3 linked regions of the Homo sapiens genome follow. The protein of the gene in region 1 interacts with the protein of each later gene in a biochemical or structural test. Each region holds a gene or a part of one and is shown in the gene's direction. Other genes may lie near its edges.

Evidence for each region.
Region 2: the proteins of RAMP1 (region 1) and DCLK3 form a complex in vitro, tested with the Homo sapiens proteins (one study listed by BioGRID).
Region 3: the proteins of RAMP1 (region 1) and SLC31A2 form a complex in vitro, tested with the Homo sapiens proteins (one study listed by BioGRID).

What each region holds. Positions count from the first base shown.
Region 1 is NC_000002.12:237,861,739-237,870,106, forward strand, and holds part of RAMP1 (receptor activity-modifying protein 1 isoform 1 precursor), read left to right. Parts: intron 1-8,165; exon of another isoform or gene 8,166-8,244; intron 8,245-8,368. UniProt on the Homo sapiens protein: Accessory protein that interacts with and modulates the function of G-protein coupled receptors including calcitonin gene-related peptide type 1 receptor (CALCRL) and calcitonin receptor (CALCR). Required for the transport of CALCRL to the plasma membrane.
Region 2 is NC_000003.12:36,719,166-36,727,533, reverse strand, and holds part of DCLK3 (serine/threonine-protein kinase DCLK3), read left to right. Parts: intron 1-5,874; coding exon 5,875-6,007; intron 6,008-8,368.
Region 3 is NC_000009.12:113,160,067-113,165,068, forward strand, and holds the end of SLC31A2 (protein SLC31A2), read left to right. Parts: intron 1-939; exon of another isoform or gene 940-1,442; coding exon 1,443-1,632; exon of another isoform or gene 1,633-2,682; coding exon 2,683-2,851; 3' UTR 2,852-4,074; downstream 4,075-5,002. UniProt on the Homo sapiens protein: Does not function as a copper(1+) importer in vivo. However, in vitro functions as a low-affinity copper(1+) importer.

The sequences.
Region 1 (8,368 bases):
TACTTGGGAGGCTGAGGCAGGAGAATCGCTTGAACTCAGAAGGCAGAGGTTGCAGTGAGCTGAGATCATGCCACTGCACTCCAGCCTGGGTGATAAGAGTGAAACTCCGTCTCAAAAAAAAAAAAAACTTAGGATCCATATATAGTTCTTTTCCCTCTGAGCATCCTGTGTACTCTTCTGTTTACTGGAGACTCTACATGCATTCTGAAAAGTTTGTGTATAGACACCGAAAAGCTGTTCGTTAACCAGGAAAGAAGGATGCGTTAGAAGCCCCTGGTTTTTCGAGTCCATCTTCACTCAGGGAATGCTGGCTGGTGCTGTCACACATGAACTCAGTCACCTGTCCTAGGAAACGCATGCCTTCCTTGGCTGTCACGTGGGAGCCAGGGGTTTTTTTAATGGCTGCAACATTAATTGAAATGTATGACTTTATATAAATACAAGTAGAATTGGAATGACAGGGACATCACAGGAAATGCTATGTGACTGCTTCAGATTGCCATGCGGTTTTAAATCTGGACACAGTTCTCATGCCAAAGTCCAAATCTGAAGGATTCTTATTTGTTAATCAACTCAGTGTGTTTGTTTACCCTCTCTGTGTGTCTAGCTGCAGGAAGAAATTTCTGGATTTTTGTCTTCCTTCCACAGGCGCATGCCTGTCAGCGTGCTTATTACCAGTCCGAGGCCAGGGCTGTTGAGAAACATTTATATCCACAGTGCAAATGGTAGATTCAGCTCCGGGAAATGTTTTAGGTGGAATCTTTAGTTAAGGCTAGTTGGAAAAGTCTGTCCTGATTTTTTTCCCCAGAATGCGCCCATTTCATAGCTTCTAATCAGTTACAACTGGCGTCTGGCTGACTGTGTGATGCAGGTGCCATGTGTAGTGTGAATTCCAGCGGAAATGCTGAGCCCAGAGAGTGAAGCCCCTCGGGCTTGCCTGCCAGTGCCCCTGCCAGTGCCCCCACCCCCAACTCAGGCCTAGAACCCCTCTTTCCTGACGGTCTTTGTGGTATGGTGGGCTGGCCCTCAGTGGTCTCTGAGCCAGGCCTGGCCATCCAGATGGTCCCAGGGAGGAGACTGGCCGCAGGCTGGACAGTCAGTGTTCTGCTGGAACCACGGGGAAAAGCTGCGTCTTTCCTCCAGGCTGGATCTGAGTGGGGCTGCCACAGTCTACCCTGTGAGCCATGGGGGAGTACCTGTCCATGACATAGAGCACTCCTGAAGCCTTTTGAGCCCCTAGATCGAGCTCATGGGGTACACATTTCCATCATGTGACCCATAACGTTTGAGATGGGTGTCTGTCCCTTGCAGGGACGGCAGGCTCAGGGGGCTCCGAGAATGGCGTACCTGGGGGACTGTGGGAATCCTGCCCAAGAGCCTCCTCCTCCACTGGGGACCCAGGGAGGCCTCCTGAAAGAAGAGGTGCTGCAGCCAGGAAGACAGTGGGAGCTGGGAAGGGGACAGGGGAGCCCGGGCTACAGTGGCCCTGGTGGCTCCAGCACTTGCTGGACCATGTGCCCACTGCCCCAGCCCACCAGTTTCTTGGTGGCAAATGAAGAGGCAGAGACGGTGCTGCCAGGGCACTGTTCAGTTCCCAGCCTGCCATACCCCCTGCCTACCTCTGACACATCCCACAGCAGACATATGAAGCCCTGGAGGGATGTCCTTGTCCCCAGTCCTCTCTGCTCCAGAACAGGAGGACTCTCAGCTGGGTGATGTTCCTGGAGGACCTGTTTCTCCTTAGTGAGGAGGATGCGTCAACACGGCCACCATAGGAGGGCTCCCAGCCCAAACAAAATCGTACTCACTTCACCGAATGATGTTATTCTGTTCAGGAAAAATATTTTTTTCCTAAGATGGTTTATTTCAGTAATTTCTGGGGCATCCGAAAGGCATCACTTTAACCATCTTTTAAATCACGGCTTCTGGGTGGCTTTGTTGGAGCAGGGTCCAGGGGGACACACTAGCCAGATGTGGCAGGAGTGCAGGGCTATGGGCCTGAGTCACAGGCCCCCCGACTCTACGTTCTCAGCTCTCTCGGTGACTCCTCCCCGTGCTCCGAGAGTGCTTCACTCCCTCCCATGTGCAGTCACATGGTGGATTCTCTGGGACCGAGAACCAGAATCCCAAAACCCCAGGCCCCGGCTGTCCACTGTGCCCTCCGCCAGGGTCAGCACCACCTCCACCCCTCACGGGGACAACTGCCCAGCCTCCCAGAACCCCCACCCCACCCACCACCCCAGGGACAGGGGGTCTTCCTCTGTGCCCCCAGCAGACCCTCAGGGTACGTTAGTGTCACCCCCACACATGCCATGTTCAGGCCCCCAGGCCTTGGCTCCGGGGAAGCAGCTCCTGAATTAGCTGAGAGTTCTGGGAAACCACGGGGGCAGGAGGGGAGGCAGAGTGACCTGGCCCGTGGCCTGGGCCAGCTCACTCCAGGGGGTGGGGTACAGCTTGCCCAGGAAGCCCTGCCCCCTGTTCTCCCGGACCACGTATCCCCACACGAGTCTCAGGAAGGACTGTCTTGAGTCTGACACCACCTGGGAGGAGAAAAGTCAGTGATTTGCCCAACCATGCGCGTGTTTGCTTCGTAAGGCCTGCCGCTGTCAGGTACCCTGGCCCCAGGCCGGGAGGGGAAGAAGCCTAGAAAGCATTGCCTCTTCAATGGACACTTGGTGACTGACACCCGGGGTGGCTCTCTCTGCAGGGATTTTCTTGCCTCTGGAGGAGACAGTTGTGAGAGGGAAGCGGGGGAGGTGGATGGATGAGGGAATGCCGGGAAAGCGCTGCACCGTTTCTCCTGGAAACACCCATCTGCCACCTCACACACGGGACACACAGGGTCAGGACTCTCACACACGTGGGACACCCAGGGTCAGGACTCGGAGGGGGCAAAGGACAGGGGTGCAGAGCAGCCTGCTACAGTAGGGTGTCCTACACAACCCAGGGCAGCTCCCCCAGAGGATGATCCCACACCAAATGTCCATAGTGCCAGGGTGGGGCAGCCCTGCTGCATGTCAACCATGTAGACATGTGGTGCTACTTAAATGCAGCAGGAAATAAACAGGAGACCACGGAGCACAGCCCTGAGGAGCAGCGGCAGCACAGTCCAGAGGGCAGAGGGCAAGGACGGTTGTGCAAAGGCCCTGCTTTGGAAGTTCCTGGAAGCCTTTTTGACTGAAGCATGGTGGGGAAGAGGGCTTTGAGCCGAAGCTGGTGCTGGAGGAAAGACCCATTCTCTAAGCATTCAGATCTCATTCCTAGGGCAGTGGGAAAACCTTGAAGGACATTAAAGGGGGTGACAGGACAGAAGGTGTGGTTTAAAGGAGCCCTCAGCTGTGGCCCCCAGCATGGGCAGGAGGCCAGGCAAGGATAGGAGTGGGAGGGTTCCAGGGAGTCCTGGAGGCGAAAGTGATGGACTCCAGTCCCTGGGCCTGGATGCAGGAAGTGAGGCAGCGCTGAGGAATGAAGAACAGCACCTGGCAGAGCTCCTGGGGGAGTAGGGAGGGCAGGGCAGGGGAGAAGAGAGGAGAGGAGGGGAGGGGAGAGCAGGGGAGAGGAGAGGAGGGGAGGGCAGGGGAGAAGAGAGGAGGGGAGGGGAGGGCAGGGGAGTAGAGAGGAGAGTGCAGGGGAGGGGAGATGACACCCCAGGCCACAGCCAGGGCTGCCAGGAAACATGGGAGCCCCAGGCAAACTGGAATTTCAGATAAACAAGAAGCATAAGCCTGTCTCATACAGTATCGGGAACATGCCTCAAAAACCACCGTTTCTCTGAGATGCAGATTTCGCAGGGCCTCCTGTCATTTGCTGCACCTGGCAGCCCCGTCCTCAGCAGCCACATGGGGTTCAGCGTTCCCCTTGGATTCTGAGGGGTGATGGTACGTAGACAGGAGTCTATGCAAATCAAGGGTTCAGAAAGAGGTATGGCCAAGAGAGGTGTTTCTGGCGGCAGCAGGGCCTGGCCTATGTCAAATCCTTGCTTGGAGGGGTGACCGGTGAGAGTGGGTAGAAACAGGCCCAGGCTCCTTGTGAGAGGCCAGAGAGGACGGCCAGGGAGGACAGAGAAGGAAACGGGCCCCAGGCACCACTGGGCACCTTGACATGATTGGTGGTGGAGGGAGGCAGATGGCAGGGTCCTTTGCAGGAGAGGCAGCGGCGAAAGCTGCCCTTAGGAGGCAGCGAGGAGGTGAAACCAGAGAGCATGCCTGTGTAGGTTTCCTCCAGTGCCTTATGGTTCTAAACACACAAACCTTTGATGCATCTGGAATTTACCTTAATTTCCTAGCAATTTTTATCAATGGCTCAATATTTGGGGGATTTTCATGGTAATTGCACTGAATGTATTAACTGGTCAGGGAGGATTACATCAAGACCACCGGCTCGAGAAACAGCAGTCTGTTCCTCCACCCCCACGTCTGCATCCAGGCCCTTCCACAGAGATCTCATTTCTCCTGCAGATGACTCATTCAGTGTCTAGGAATCCGGTGCTCTGTGGCCACTACCGAGAGTGGGATATTTTCCCCCATTTTATTTTCTAGCTGGTCATCGCTGGGCTAAGAGGAAGCTCCTCTTCTGTGTGTTTCTTTTGTGACTGTTGTCACCCTGTGCCTGTTTTTTATTTTAGTTTTTTTGCTTCCTGCTTGGTTCTTCAGGCCAGTCATAAGGTCACCCGTAACCTAGGGTGGTCCTACCACCTCTTAACAATTTTCCCTGTTTTGTTCTCCAGTCGTACTGTGTTGGAGAGTGACTCACTGCTGAGTAGGGGAGTGACAGCAGCTGCCTTCCTTTGCTGCTGGCGATGGCAATACAAGTGACCCTTGAACAACGCAGGGGTGGGGCGCCGAACCCCCACATGGTCAGAAATTCGAGTGTAGCTCTTGACTCCCCCAAAGCTTAACGACAGCCTACTATTGAGCAGAGGCCTTACTGATAACATTATCTGTGAGTTAACCCATATTTTGTATGTTACATGTATGTATACTGTATTCTTTTTTTTTTTTCTTTTTTTGAGACTGAGTCTCCCTCTTTTGCCCAGGCTGTAGTACAGTGGTGCGATCTTGGCTCACCACAACCTCCAACTCCCGGGTTCAAGTGTTTCTCCTGCCTCAGCCTCCCCAGTAGCTCAGATTATAGGTGCCCGCTACCATGCCCGGCAAATTTTTGTATTTTTGGTAGAGACGGGGTTTCACTATCTTGGCCAGGCTGGTCTCAAACTCCCAACCTCAAGTGATCCATGCATCTTGGCTTCCCGAAGTGCTGGGATTACAGGCGTGAGCCACTGTGCCCAGCCTATACTGTATTCTTATAATGAAGTAAGCTAGAGAAAAGAAAGTGTTATTAAGAAAATTAGACCCAGCATGGTATCTCACGCCTGTAATCCTTGCATTTTGGGAGGCCAAGGTGGGAGGATCGCTTGAGTCCAGGGGGTGGAGGTTGCAATGAACCAAGATCACACCACTGCAATCCAGCGTGGGCAATAGAGTGAGATCCCATCTCAAAAAAACCCACAGAAAATATATATACTTTTCATTAAGTGTAAGTGGATCATCCTAAGGTCTTCATGTTGAGGAGGCCAAGAAGGAGGAGCAAGAGGAGGGGTTGGTCTTGCTGTCTCAGTGGCGGCAGCGGCAGAAGAAAAGCTTCATGTAGGTGATCCACACAGTTCAGAGCCATGTGGTCAAGAGTTAACACCTTAAACCTTCTGTCTTTCTCCTTTGGGGCCAGATGCTTTTTTATTGTATTTTTGTGGGGGTGGGGGTGGGAGAGGGATGGAGAATGCATCTTCTTCCCGTGTGTAAAGTAAGCTTTTGTCCTGTGAAGGAAGAACCGTTCGATGTGACACAACAACCTGCCCAGCTGGACATTGTCTCAGTGCTGGCAGGCCGCTGGCACTGGCGAGGCTGTGACACAGGAGAAGTGGTCAGAGGCTGCGAACCTACCGTGTTTCTGGGATGAATGGAGCGTTTCCTCATTCCTGTGCAGCCTTTCGGCAGTCTCAGGTGTCTGTTGGCCACTGTTTGTTCTGAGTGTGGCTTCGTTCTTCCTGAGTGAGCTTGCTCTGTACTTTACCTTGGGAGTTTTATTACCAGCATTGGGTTTTCTTCCCAAGATACAGGTTGTGGACCCTTATTCTTTCCCTGTGTGCTAGGATAGTCAGGATGATGGAAATAAGCAGTTCCTTGAAGATCTAGAGGGTCTTCATTTTCACCTGCAAAACCACCGGGGCCAGGCTCCTTTTCATGGTGTAGAAAATTGGCAACCTTTTCAGTATCTTTCTGGTGTTAATTGGTCCCCTTGGGTTTTCTGTCTTTTTTTTTTTTTTTTGGATGGAGTCTTGCTCTGTCGCCCAGGCTGGAGTGCAGTGGAGCGATGTCAGCTCACTGCAACCTCCACCTCCCAAGTTCAAGTGATTCTCCTGCCTCAGTCTCTCAGGTAGCTGGGATTACTGGTGCCTGCCACCATGTCCAGCTAATTTTTGTATTTTTAGTAGAGATAGGGTTTCACCATGTTGGCCAGGCTGCTCTCGAACTCCTGGCCTTCGGTGATCCACCCACCTCAGCCTCTCAAAGTGCTGGGATTACAGGCATGAGCCACTGTGCCTGGCTGGGGTTTTCTGTGTCTTGTAGCAGTGATGTTGTTTTACATTTTCCTCTGAAGTTGTTCATTTTATCCACATATCATTATGTGAACAATTATTTTTCTAATTCCCTCTACATCTGTGAACATCTGTCCTTTTTAGTGCAATTTTGTGAATTTGTATTTTCATGTTATTTCTTGATCAGAATGGACAGTGGTTAATCTGTGATTGGTCTCTTCCCCACTGATTCCCTCCCCCCACCAAAAAAAAAAAACAAAAAAAAAAAAACAGTTCCTGAGTTTACTTACTCTACACTTTTTCTTGAATGCCTAACGCATTTCTTTTTGTTCTTTGCTGGCGTGGGAATGAAACGTCATCGGTTCTCTGCTTGGCAGCTTGGCTGGATCCCCTGAGTTTGCCTCTGCCTTGTGCTCATGGTTGATATTTTCTGGATTCTCTGTATTTGTGGTTTCTGTTTCCTCTTTAGCACGTGAATTGTTTGGAAGCAAGTTTTTACAAATCTCAGGGGCTCCGGCTTTTTGGTTTCTCTCCCGATACTCATTGCTAGTTTTATTGCACTGTGGTCGGGGGCAGAGCGGGAACCACAACCATGACTTAGTGTGCATTGCGGGTTCTTTCTTGGTCTTACAAATTTTTCGTGTTGTAAATGGCCCGTAAGCCCGTGGGAGGAGTGTGGCGTTTTTATGTATCCATCCCGGTCATCATATTAAATTTAATACTTAGGGCCTCCGTATCCCTATTTTCATCTTCTCCATCCATGCGCATTGTGTGAAAACCCTGCACTGCGTTTGTGATCCTGCCTGCTTTCCCTGGGCACGTGTTGCTGCGTGTTCACGCAGGGGAGAGGATGGGGAATTCCATATGTGACCCTGCCAGTCACAGCTGCATGGTGACTTCTTATAGCTCTGTCCCAGTCATTGCTTTTTTAATTTTAATTGCGGTAAAGTATACACCACATAAAATGTACCATCTTACCTATTTTTAAGTGTACAGTTCTATGCCACTAAGCACACTCACGCTGCTGTACAACCATCGCCACTATCCATCCCTAGAAGTTTTTTCATTTTGCAAAACTGAAACTCTGTCCCAGTTAAACACTAACCCCCTGCTGATTTACCACCTCCCCCAGCCCCTGGGACCCACGATTCTACTTTCTGTCTCTGACTACTCTAGGAACCTGTATTAGTGGAATCATACAGCATTTGTGACTGGCTCATTTCACTTAAGGTTCTTCCATGTCGTAGTGTGAATCAGAATTTCCTTCCTTTTGAAGGCCAAATAATATTCCACTGTTATGGATAGACCACACTGTGTTTATCCATTCATCCATGGACACGTGGGTTGCTTCCACTTCTGGCTGTTGTGAATCAGGCTGCTGTGAACATGGGTGTTCAGATATCTCTGTGAGACCCTGCTTCCAGTTCCTTTGGGCATATACCCAGGGCATATACCCCGGATCATTAGGTGGTTCTGTGTTTAATGTTTTGAGGAGCCGCCACAGCGTTTCCGCAGTGGCTGTGGCATCGTGCGTTCCCACCAGCAGTGCACAAGGCTCTGGTTCTCAGGGGCCGTGTGAGGCCACCTCTGCCATGCTGCAGGCTCCCCAGCACGCAGTGGGGAACCCAACCTTGGAGAGCCGAGCCGGGGAAGAAAAAGCGTCTCCACAGCCTTGGCAACACTTGTGATTTTGTTTTCGATGGTAGCCGTTCTAACGGGATTGAGGAGCCATTCGTTACTTCACAGGTGGACAGCAGCAGCTTTGTCGGGGAC
Region 2 (8,368 bases), on another chromosome or scaffold:
AAACAGATTTGGCATTTTGAAAATATATCCTTCAGTCTCTGGATAGTTAACATAATAAATTTTCAAAGTAAAGTGTGAGTTTCCAAAACATTTAATCTGCTACAAGCTCAGTGGAGCCAGGTTTTGGAATTGGGGGCTTCCATGAGGAAGGTAATGTTTCACTTATTTCACAATAGGAACACACTTCTTACTTTGGTATACTAAGTCAGCCAAATGCTTTATTTGTTTTTAAGACTAATTATTTTAAGATGGAGCTTCATCCTTTCACCCAGGCTGGAGTGCAGTGGCTCGACCTCAGCTCACTGCAACCTCCATCTCCGGGGTTCAAGTGATTCTCCTGCCTCAGCCTCCTGAGTAGCTGGGATTACAGGGGCCCGCCACCATGCCCAGCTGTTTTTTTTTGTTGTATTTTTAGTAGAGATGGGGTTTCACCATGTTGGCCGGGCTGGTCTCAAACTCCTGACCTCAAGTGATCCACATGCCTAAGCCTCCCAAAGTACTGGGATTACATGAGCCACTGTGCCTGGCCAGTCAGCCAAATGCTTTTATGCCACTAATTTATAAATATTTGTGAGAGACATATTTTTCCAGCAGTCACCCAGCAACTACGATTAATGTATATGATCCATCTGGTCATTTTGGTATCACATTATTTTGTTTTCCTTCCCTTCCAAACAAGGTTTTCTTAAATTATTCTGGTAATTACCCTGTTGTCTCCTTTTGGGCTATGTCAGTTTCTATATGCAGACTGAGCAGAATTTCATTTTAGTTCTAAATTTATGACTTTCCATTTGGTGAGGTTAATTATGGAGACATTGATTAGATTGTCTGGTGGTGACTGGGGCTCAGCAATTAAGACACATGCTGCTTATGGAGATGTAAGCTCACTGGCAGAAACCAAAGCAAGTGGGGAGAATTTATTCTGGTCTGGAGAGACAGGGGAAAGGCCGCTCCACCCTGCCATTCTAGGTGTTGCCCATGGCTGTGATGGGTCCCAGGGAGAGGCAGAGTTCCTCTACTGCCCACCTGTCCAGGCACTGGTAGGAGCATTGAGAGCCTTTGCCCCAGTTCCAGGAGAGATGTGAGGGTGTATGCCTGCAGACAAGTTGATAATTTCTCCTACAGCTGTGGTGGCACTAATGAGTCTCCTGCTTGGATAAGATTGCCCAAATTTATTCTAGTAAGTTTTCACACAGTGGTCTAATTAACTGCTTAGTTCACCTTTGGTCTGAGCAATCAGCTTCTACCATGAGAAACAGGGCCTTACGTGTGTGGGTACAAGCTAGTTTGGAAGGAGGCTGGAGTATTGACTTGTGTCTGATTATTTAACCTTCCCTCAAACTGGAAAACTTATTTAATGGCAGGCGGCACCGATGCATCTTTTACTTGCTGCAAGATATGCTGGGTTTGCGCCCTCATGGTTTGGTTTTTCATGTGAAATTTAGTTTTATTTTTTCTAGCATAGTGACCTAAATACTTGCCACACTTACCTCTTGTGATTAGTTTCTTTTAGGTTAAGATCCAACAGTCATAATCTTGTATCAAATCCCTTGTTGGGGGAGGAGGACAGGACATACTAACTTGGCAATGGGATTTGGCTTACCAGAGATGAGAAAGCCAGTCACTTGGACTTGTTTGAAAGAGTGAGACAGGTGGGATAAGTTTTGAATGGGAAAAAGGAAGGAGCATTTGAGATTCTGTATTCATTCAGAGTGAAGGTGAGTGTGCCTTTTCTCTATTTTAAAAATTGACCAATTCTACCCTTTTCTAAAACCTGGTGGAGGTCCAAGGCAAACTGGGCCTTTTGGTCACTCTAGAGCTATTACTTTGCTAGGCAGATTACAGACATTGAATGAAACTTGTGACATAAGCCTATTTGCTGGAAACTGTCACTCCCATTCTCCCCTCTTTTATTTTGAGACAGGGTCTTACTCTGTTGCTCAGGATGGAGTGCAGTGGTGCAATCATGGCACACTGCAGCCTCGACTTCTCAGGCTCTAGTGATCCTCCTACCTCAGCCTCCCAAGTAGCTGGGACCACAGGCATGCACCACCATGCCTGGCTAATATTTTTACTATTTGTAGAGGTGGGGTCTCCTCGTGTTGCCCAGGCTGGTCTTGAACTCCTGGCCTCAAGTGATCCTTCCACCTTGGCCTCCCAAAGAGCTGGGATTACAGATGTAAGCCACTGCACCTGCCCCACCCCCCGTTTTTTTTTTTTTTGAGACGGAGTCTCGCTCTGTCGCCCAGGCTGGAGTGCAGTGGCGCGAGCTCAGCTCACTTCAAGCTCCGCCTCCTGGGTTCACGCTATTCTTCTGCCTCAGCCTTCAGAGTAGCTGGGACTACAGGCGCCCGCCATCAGGCTGGCTAATTTTTTGTATTTTTAGTAGAGATGGGTTTCACCGTGTTAGCCAGGATGGTCTTGATCTCCTGACCTCATGATCCGCCCGTCTTGGCCTCCCAAAGTGCTGGGATTACAGGCATGAGCCACCGAGCCCGGCCCATTTTTTTTTTTTTTTAACAAATGAGAAAACAGAGGCTCAGATGAGTAAAGAAATTTGTCCAAGACCATCCAGCCTCAAGTCTTGGAGTTGGAATTGTTCAAAGACTCCTGGCCTGTTTGATTCTTAATCCCCCACCCCTCCAAATGAGGGCCTGTATTTAACATCTCTCTCCTGCTTATTAGTTTACTTCCTCATTTTTCATAATTTTTAATTTTTGTGGGTATGTATTAGTCTGTTTTTATGCTGCTGATAAAGAGATACCTGAGACTGGGAAGAAAAAGAGGTTTAATAGACTTATGGTTCCACATGGCTGGGGAGGCCTTCCCACAATCATGGTGGAAGGCAAGGAGGAGCAAGTCATATCTTACATGGATGGCAGCAGGCAAATAGAGAGCTTGTGCAGGCAAACTCCCATTTTTGAAACTGTCAGATCTCGTGAGACTGATTCGCTATCATGAGAACAGCACAGGAAAGACCCGCCCCCATAATTCAATTACCTCCTACTGGGTTCCTCCCACAACATGTGGGAATTGTGGGAGTTACAATTCAAGATGAGATTTGGGTGGGGACACAGCCAAACCATATCATTCTGCCCTGGCCCCTCCCAAATCTCATGTCCTCACATTTCAAAACCAATCATGTCTTCTCAATAGTTCCCCAAAGTCTTAACTCATTTCAGCATTAACTTAAGAGTCCACAGTCCAAAGTCTCATCCAAGACAAGTAAAGTCCCTTCCTCCTGTGAGCCTGTAGAATCAAAAGCAAGTTAGTTACTTCCTAGATACAGTCGGGGTACAGGTGTTGGGTAAATACAGCCATTTCAACTGGGAGGAATTGGCCAAAACAAAGGGGCCACAGGCCCCATGAAAGTCTGAAATCTAGCGGGGCAGTCAAATCTTAAAGCTCCAAAATGATCTCTTTTGACTCCAGGTCTCACATCCAGGTCACGCTAATGCAAGAGGTGGGTTCCCATGGTCTTGGGCAGCTCCGCTCCTGTGGTTTTGCAGGGTACAGCCTCTCTCCTGGCTTCTTTCACAGGCTGGCATTGAAAGTCTGTGGCTTTTCTAGGTGCATGGTACAAGTTGTCATTGGTCTACCATTCTGAAGGCTGGAGGACAGTGGCCTTCTTCTCACAGCTCCATTAGGCAGTGCCCCAGTAGGGACTCTGTTTGGGGGATCCGACCCCACATTTCCCTTCTGCACTGCCCTAGCAGAGAGTCTCCATGAGAACCCCTCCCCTGCAGCAAACTTTTGCCTGGACATCCAGGCGTTTGCATACATCCTCTGAAATCTGGCAGAGGTTCCTAAACCCCAATTCTTGACTTCTGTGCAATGGCAGGCTCACTACCACTTGGAATTGACCAAGGCTTGCTTCCTCTGAAGCCACAACTCGAGCTCTACGTTTGCCCCTTTCAGCCATGGCTGGAGCGGCTGGGAGGCAGGGTACCAAGTCCCTAGGCTGCACACAGCATGGGGATCCTGGGCCCAGTCCACAAAACCACTTTTTCCTTGTAGGTCTCTACACCTGTGATAGGATGGGGTGCCATGAAGACCTCTGACATGCCCTGGAGACATTTTCCCCATTGTCTTGGGGATTAACATTTGGGTCCTCATTACTTAGGCAAATTTCTGCAGCCGGCTTTAATTTATCCTTGGAAAATGGGATTTTCTTTTCTATTGCATTGTCAGGCTGCAAATTTTCCAAACTTTTGTGCTCTGTTTCCCTTATAAAACTGAATGTCTTTAACAGCACCCAAGTCACCTCTTGAATGCTTTACTGCTTAGAAATTTCTTCCACCAGATATCCTAAATCATCTCTCTCAAGTTCAAAGTTCCATAAATCTCTAGGGCAGGGGCAAAATGCCACCAGTCTCTGCTAAAATGTAGCAAGAGTCACCTTTGTCCCAGTTCCCAACAAGTTCCTCATTTCCATCTGAGACCACCTCAGTCTGGACTTTATTGTCCATATCACTATCAGCATTTTGGGCAAAGCCATTCAACAAGTCTCTAGGAAGTTACAAACTTTCCCACATTTTTCTGTCTTCTTCTGAGCCCTCCAAACTGTACCAGTCTCTGCCTGTTACCAAGTTCCAAAGTCACTTCCACATTTTTGGGTATCTTTCCAGCAGTGCCCCACTCTACTGGTACCAGTTTACTGTATTAGTCCATTTTCATGCTGCTGATAAAGACATACCTGAGACCAGGAAAAAAAGGAGTTTAATGGACTATGGTTCCACATGGCTGGGGAGGCCTTCCCACAATTATGGTGGAAGGCAAGGAGGAGCAAGTCACATCTTACATGGATGGCATCAGGCAAAGAGAGAGCTTGTGCAGGCAAACTCCCATTTTTAAAACTGTCAGATCTCATGAGATTGATTCACTATCATGAGAACAGCATGGGAAAGACCCACTCCCATGATTCAATTACTGCCCACCGGGTTCCCCTCACAACATGTGGGAATTGTGGGAGTTACAATTCAAGATGAGATTTGGGTAGGGACACAGCCAAACCATATCAGGGTACATACTAGGTGCATATATTTTTGGGGTACATGAGATGTTTTGATACAGGCATGCAATGCATAATCATTACATCATGGAGAATGGGGTATTCATCCCCTCAAGCATTTATCCTTGTGTGATTACTTTTGCACCAACCTAATACAAGCAATCCAATTATACCCTTTTAGTTATTTAAAAATGTACAATTGAATTATCATTGACTATAGTCACCCTGTTTTTCTATCAAATAATAGGTCATATTCATTCTTTCTAAGTATTCTTTTTGTACCAATTAACCGTCCCTATCTCCCCCTCACCCCTGCCCCATACTTCTTCATTTTAATTCCCAGTCTTTTTCCTTTCTTTTTTCCCTCTGCCCAGCCTCTGCATTGCCCAGAGGCATTTTCTAATGCTCATGAAAGCTAGTCTGTGCTCAAAGTATCCTTGATCCTTGTTCTAAGTCAATGCTGTCTAATAGCCCTTTCTGCAACAATGGAAGTGTGTCTATCTGTGTTTCCCAATATAGTAGCCACAAGCCACAAGTGGCTTTTGAGCACTTGAAATGTGCCTAATGCAGCTGAGAAGCTAAATTTTAAATTTAATTTTACTTAATAAACTTAAGTAGCCACTTGTGACAATATGGTGCTACCATATTGGACGGCCTAGTAAATCTAACTCATTGGTTCTTAAGTTGAAAATGTGAGCCCTTGTCATTGAGGTCAAGTTAGCTTTGTCAGTGTTGGGCTAAGCTGTAATCTCATATAGGTTTATGGTTTGCTTTTCTTGACCTTGCATGGCTGTTGTTTCATTAGTATCCCTTCTTTGTTCTAATCACAATTTTGGTGGTTTGGGGATTTTGGTTTCTTACAGGTTCAGCGAAATGAGGACAAATCTACTACCTTGAAATTGGCTGATTTTGGACTTGCAAAGCATGTGGTGAGACCTATATTTACTGTGTGTGGGACCCCAACTTACGTAGCTCCCGAAATTCTTTCTGAGAAAGGTAAGTGTTACACATCGATCTGTGGGACTCTAGTTCCCTTACTAACAAATGTTTCATTTGTCATATTTACTAGTTTTCAATATGGAATAAATCTCAGAGAACTGACACTTAGGCTTGGATTTGGACTTCAATGAAAATATTTGAAGTAGGCTTGACCAAAGCATGAGAGCTTTCTCCTCATTAGGGCTGCCCTTGTTACAGTCAATGGATCAGTGTGTGTGCATGTGTGTGTGTGTGTGTGTGTGTTTATTGTGTTTAGGCAGGACAGTGAGATGAAAGATGATGGAGAATTGGGTGGGGAACTCAAGCAAGCAAGGCTACTTGACCCAAGGCTATCTCTAATAGGAGAGAATTGAAGCAGTCCTTATGGTACTTGGTTTAAAAATTTCTTCACCAACCTTGCATTTAAAGGAAAAGGATCCCATTTTCCTCCATGAACTCTATGAATATTTATTACCTACTTGTATATTATGCAAGGATCCAATGAGCTGTTTTAGTGACAAACTTTCTAAAACATTTAAAAAGGAAATAATAGTTATGATATGGCTCTAAATATATGAATGACTATTTGACTACTGTGGCACTCCAGGAGAAACCAATTTACCCACCATTGGTAAGATGGGAAGACTCTCATTGGGTTGCAGGGTTGGTGACAGGGAGAAGGGATGGACGGATAGTTTCCCAGCAGCAGAAGCATCAGGATAATTAAGATGAGGAGATGGCCAGGGATGGTGGCTCATGCCTGTAATCCCAGCTCTTTGGGAGGCTGAGGCAGGTGGATCACCTGAGGTCAGGCATTTGAAACCATCCTGGCCAACATGGTGAAACCCTGTCTGTACTAAAACTACAAAAAAATTAGCTGGGCGTGGTGGCACATGCCTGTAATCTGAGCTACTCGGGAGGCTGAGGCAGGAGAATTGCTTGAACCGGGGAGGTGGAGTTTGCAGTGAGCCAAGATCGTGCCATTGCACTCCAGCCTGGGCAACAAGAGTGAAACTTCATCTCAAAAAAAAAAAAAAAAAGATGAGGAGATGACAACATGCATGAGGTCAGGTGTTAGAGACATGGAGAAGACTAGCCTCAATGGACCAGAGAGAAACACAATTGGTTGGTATATTAGTCAGGTTTTTCTGTTGCTATAGAAATAACGAAGGCTGGGTAATTTATAAAGAAAAGAGGTTTAGTTGGTTCAGGGTTCTGCAGGCTGTACAAGCATGGTGCCAGCCATCTGCTCTGCTTCTGATAAGGGCTTAAGAAGCTTACACTCATGGTGGAAGGTGACAGGGAACCGGCATGTTACATGGTGGGACTGGGAGCAAGAGAGAGAGAGGGAGGTCCCAGACTTCTAAACAACCAGATCCTAAGTGAACTACCTGAGTGAGAACTCACTTGTCACCAAGGGGATGGTACTAAACCATTCATGAAGGATCCACCCCCATGATCTAATCACTTCCCGCCAGGCCCCACCTCCAACATTGGGAATCACATTTCAACATGAGATTTGGAGGGGACAAATATCCAAACCGTATCAGTTGGGTAGGTTGAGCTTAAATTCTCCACAAATGGGAAGACTGGTTAGAGATGTTTAGACTTGGTGTGGCATCGATGAACTGGATAAGAGAAGAAAAGAAAGCAAATAGGCAACACAAACTCTTGGGAAAACCACATATTGGTGGTAGCACCAACTAAAACAGGGTGTTGGAAAGGATAGCTCTTTTGGGAGATAGGGGGATGGGCTGAGTTTAATTTTGAATACACTGACTTTGTAGCGATATCAGGATGGATAATGGAGTTGTCCACTTGGCAAGGAGGTGAAGCTGTGAGCTGAACATGTGGCTTTGAGACTCCTCAACACAGAGATGGTTGATAATGGGCTCCTTGGTGATGCCAGGAATGAGAGCCAAGGACAGATTCTTGAGGAGGCCAAGAGCTCAGGGATGAGAGAAGGAAGGAGGGATCAGCAGAGAAAAGGCTGAGCAGCCCAGAGAGGATCTGAAAAGTGCATTGTCACAGAGGCCAAGGGACATTTCTAGGATTGATGAGGTCCAGGAAAATCAATCCCTCTCAACAGTGAGATGGTTGAGAACTGAGAAAAGACCAAAAGAGGTCATTAGTGACTTATTCTTTTAATATTTTCCTGCAGATTTGTATTTTGACAAACTTACTCTGGGGCTTAATTATGAATATCTAACTTCTAAATTACAGTGGTCAAGTGTTTTCTTTTTCTAACTGTAAAAAGTTAGTTAGAAAGTGTTTGAAAATGTCTATATTGCTGTGATAAGTTTTGGGAGGACAATGTGTAATATGTATCAAAAACCTTTACTGTATATTGCTTTGTCTATTTCATTGCTGGAAGGTTAT
Region 3 (5,002 bases), on another chromosome or scaffold:
CTTGGGAGGCTGAGGCAAGATAATTGCTTGAATCCTGAGGCAAGATAATTGCTTGAATCCAGGAGGTGGAGGTTGCAGTGAGCCAAGATTGCGCCACTGCACTCCAGCCTGGGCAACAGAGCGAGACTCCATCTAAAAAAAAAAAGTACAATGAATAGCTGTGTGGAAAAGATGCATGGGGCAAGGCATGTAGGAGGGGGTTCAGAGCCTCCAGGCCCTCCCTGGGCTTGCCACCTTCCAGGTACCCCCATGTGTTCACAGCAGCTGGAAGCTTTTCAAATCCTGTCCTTTTAAAAAAAATTATTCATATATAATAGTTGTACATGTTTTGGGGTACACGTGATATTTTGATACCTATATACAATATGTAATGATCCAATCAGGGTGACTGGGGTGTTTATCACCTCAAACATTTATCTTTGTGTTGGGAACATTACAATTCTATTTTGAAATATACAATAAATTATGGTTAACTATAAATTTCCCTACTGTACTGTCGAATACAACAACTTATTCCTTCTATCTAAACTGCATTCTTTTGGGTTTCTATGGAGTCTTCATATGGAGGAATGATTGATGACCTCATTGGCCACTGGTGATCAATTCAACCTTCAGTCCCTGTCTCCTTCCAGAGGTAGGGAGTGGGGCTGAAAGTGCCAACCTCCAAGCACAAGTTTGGCTCCCCTGGCAACCAGCCCCCATCCAGGAGCCTCAGCCATCAGTCATCTCATTAGCATATAAAAAGACACCACTTGACAGCGTTTCCAAGGGTTCTAGAAGTCGTGTGCCAGGAAACCAGGGCAGAAACAGGATATATATCTCTTATTATGTCGCAGAGTCCAGTAAAATACTTTAGCTGGACCACTTATTATCCCTCTTAGTGAAACAAAAGTAGTAATTAACAGTTAATTTTACACAGCAGCTCTAATAAGCACTTGATAGTTTTGGTAAAATAATTTATTGGGTTTTTCCCCTATTATAAAAGTAATATATATAAAAGAAACCTTAGAAAGTTAGGCAAGAACATAAAAACCACCTGTATCCTACTTTGCTGAGATAACTATTACTCTTGTGCTATTTATCTTTCCTTCCAGACATTTTTTGCATACTTACATATAAATAGGACCTTGCAGTACTCATCACTTAACAAGAAGTCACGACAGATTTGTGCAGCCTGCTGGGGGAGTGGGTGGGGTAATGGTACGTGGCTTCTTCACCCTCAGCCCCTGGATTTTTCAGGTGGCTTCTCTTCCTGATCTCAAAGCCACACTCCAGCTAAGAAAAGTCTGGTGAAGACAGTGAAGAAGTTCGGAACTCAGCAAGGGTGGGGAAGAAGGTGCAGGATAGAGGTGGATGGAGTGGATTCCATGAACAGGTGGAGGTGCTGGAAGGGAAACAGTGCTGGCCTGGCCAGGTCTCCACAACTCTGCCTCCTTTGACAGGCATGGCCCTTTCGGTGTTGGTGCTCCTGCTTCTGGCTGTACTGTATGAAGGCATCAAGGTTGGCAAAGCCAAGCTGCTCAACCAGGTACTGGTGAACCTGCCAACCTCCATCAGCCAGCAGACCATCGCAGAGACAGACGGGGACTCTGCAGGCTCAGATTCATTCCCTGTTGGCAGAACCCACCACAGGTACAGGCAGTGGGTATGGGAAAGGGGCAGAAGCCTCACATTCACCCTGAGAGACAGGCTGGCCCAGACAGCATTAGCCCCACTTCACAGAGAGGACAGCGAGGCCCAGGGAAGGACCAGGACTTGCCAAAGTGGCTACACATAGCCAAGTGAACTAGAGCTCATGTCTCCTGATGCCCAGGCCAAAGCACTCTGTGAACAGCCAGCCACTTGAGAGGCTCAGAAGGCTTTCTTTAGGGAACAGTGATCTTCAGGTGCAGGCCCCTATCTAGCAAATGAGGTGGCCACCCACCCTCCCCCAAATCTCACCAGTTCCATGGGTCACTAGGCTCCCATATCCAGGAGGGGATCTGCAGCTGTCCTGAAGCAATGTATCCCACTTGGTGGGAGGAGGATGACAAGCTCTCCTCTCCTCCCTTCCCACTCGAATCAGGCAACCATTTAGGGTCCCTGTTCTGCCCTCTGTCCAGCCCCAGCCTCACCTGTGCTTAATAAGCCTGCCCGCTCCATCACTAGCCACCCTACATGGGTGTCTCAGATCTTCACAACTGCACTGCAAGGGAAGTATTCTCATTCCTGTTTTACTGATAAGGAATCTTACGTTCAGAGAGGTTAAGACATTTGTCTAGGCCACTTTTAGTTAGTGGCAGGTCTAGGAACTGATAATGTCACCTAAGACCATGCTTTTTCTTTCCATTGTCATACTGCCTCCCGAAGTAGATTCAGGGGGGAAATATGCCTTACTGATGATTTTCTCTTATTCCTTATCAGAAAGACAGATTATAGATACCCTCATTTTCCCCTTTGCCTAGGATGCCAGGAAGCTTGAAACCAAATGTAGTGAAGATATGTCTCTTTAAAAATAAATCTCGAGTTTTTTCTGGGGGCGGGGGTGGGAGGGGCAGAAAGAAATCACTCCTGGGTTAAGCATACAAGTTATAAATCAATCGGGTCACGTAACTCAACAGCTTTCTACTCCCTGATATCTACTCCCAGCTTCCTCATTACCAGCTCATTACCAGGATTAACTTGCTTCTCCTTTTTATCTAGGTGGTATTTGTGTCACTTTGGCCAGTCTCTAATCCATGTCATCCAGGTGGTCATCGGCTACTTCATCATGCTGGCCGTAATGTCCTACAACACCTGGATTTTCCTTGGTGTGGTCTTGGGCTCTGCTGTGGGCTACTACCTAGCTTACCCACTTCTCAGCACAGCTTAGCTGGTGAGGAACGTGCAGGCACTGAGGCTGGAGGGACATGGAGCCCCCTCTTCCAGACACTATACTTCCAACTGCCCTTTCTTCTGATGGCTATTCCTCCACCTTATTCCCAGCCCCTGGAAACTTTGAGCTGAAGCCAGCACTTGCTCCCTGGAGTTCGGAAGCCATTGCAGCAACCTTCCTTCTCAGCCAGCCTACGTAGGGCCCAGGCATGGTCTTGTGTCTTAAGACAGCTGCTGTGACCAAAGGGAGAATGGAGATAACAGGGGTGGCAGGGTTACTGAGCCCATGACAATGCTTCTCTGTGACTCAAACCAGGAATTTCCAAAGATTTCAAGCCAGGGAGAAGGGTTCTTGGTGATGCAGGGCATGGAACCTGGACACCCTCAGCTCTCCTGCTTTGTGCCTTATCTACAGGAGCATCGCCCATTGGACTTCCTGACCTCTTCTGTCTTTGAGGGACAGAGACCAAGCTAGATCCTTTTTCTCACCTTTCTGCCTTTGGAACACATGAAGATCATCTCGTCTATGGATCATGTTGACAAACTAAGTTTTTTTTATTTTTCCCATTGAACTCCTAGTTGGCAATTTTGCACATTCATACAAAAAAATTTTTAATGAAATGATTTCATTGATTCATGATGGATGGCAGAAACTGCTGAGACCTATTTCCCTTTCTTGGGGAGAGAATAAGTGACAGCTGATTAAAGGCAGAGACACAGGACTGCTTTCAGGCTCCTGGTTTATTCTCTGATAGACTGAGCTCCTTCCACCAGAAGGCACTGCCTGCAGGAAGAAGATGATCTGATGGCCGTGGGTGTCTGGGAAGCTCTTCGTGGCCTCAATGCCCTCCTTTATCCTCATCTTTCTTCTATGCAGAACAAAAAGCTGCATCTAATAATGTTCAATACTTAATATTCTCTATTTATTACTTACTGCTTACTCGTAATGATCTAGTGGGGAAACATGATTCATTCACTTAAAATACTGATTAAGCCATGGGCAGGTACTGACTGAAGATGCAATCCAACCAAAGCCATTACATTTTTTGAGTTAGATGGGACTCTCTGGATAGTTGAACCTCTTCACTTTATAAAAAAGGAAAGAGAGAAAATCACTGCTGTATACTAAATACCTCACAGATTAGATGAAAAGATGGTTGTAAGCTTTGGGAATTAAAAACAAACAAATACATTTTAGTAAATATATATTTTTAAATAGTCTATGACTGTTCTGTTCTCCTAATTCCAACAGAAAGCACATGAACCCTTGTAACAACTGCAGGGGCTGAGTGGGGCTAATAGAACTGGTAGTACTCTTTATAAGCCTGTCTGAGGACAGAGTCCATCCATCTGCTACAAAGACAACTCTGCTCAGGGAAACCCAGCCCTGAAATGCTGCACCCAGGTAGACACCCCAGAATGCCAACTGAGGCAAGTCAAGTCATTCTTCATTCATGTAACAAGTATTAATTGAGTACATGCTATAAGAAAAGTAACTGTCACACGGACTTTAAGCACCTGTGTTGGCACAATTACTCAGCATCTTCTCTCCCTGCGGGCAGAAGCAAATATAATAGCCACTAGTTAATTTACAATAAGAAATAACTGCCCTAGAAAGTAGACTATGTCACACCTTTAGGACTGATCAGGGCATTCCCCCATGTTTGCAGGGAACTGGAAAGCTGCCTGGTGTCTCAAGAAGCCTGTTTCTAAAAGCATCACCGCCCCTTCCCCCAACCAGTGACAGTCAGGCTGTGCTGGCCAAGAGCCCAGGCTCTGGAATCAGATGGCCAGGATTTGAATTCTTGTGCTGAGGCTTCCTAGATATGTAACTTTGGGCAAATTACTTTACCTCTCTAAGTCTCAGTTTTCTCCTCTATAAAATGGTGATAACACTGTCTTCTGCAGTGGTTGCTGGAGATAAGCCAGTCTGTGAAAGTGCCAAACAGCACCGCCTTTTGTTAAGCAACAAAGAAATAATTAGTTCTCACTGCCTCCCAGGTCCGCACACGGGAGACATATCCAAAGCCTGCAAGGATGATGCCAGGCCAGATGAAGTGGAATTTTGGGTCCTATCTTTTAAAACATTTAAAATCAAGAAACATTTTTTATTAAAATTAATTATTCTGTTTTTTTAAAGACTGATTGC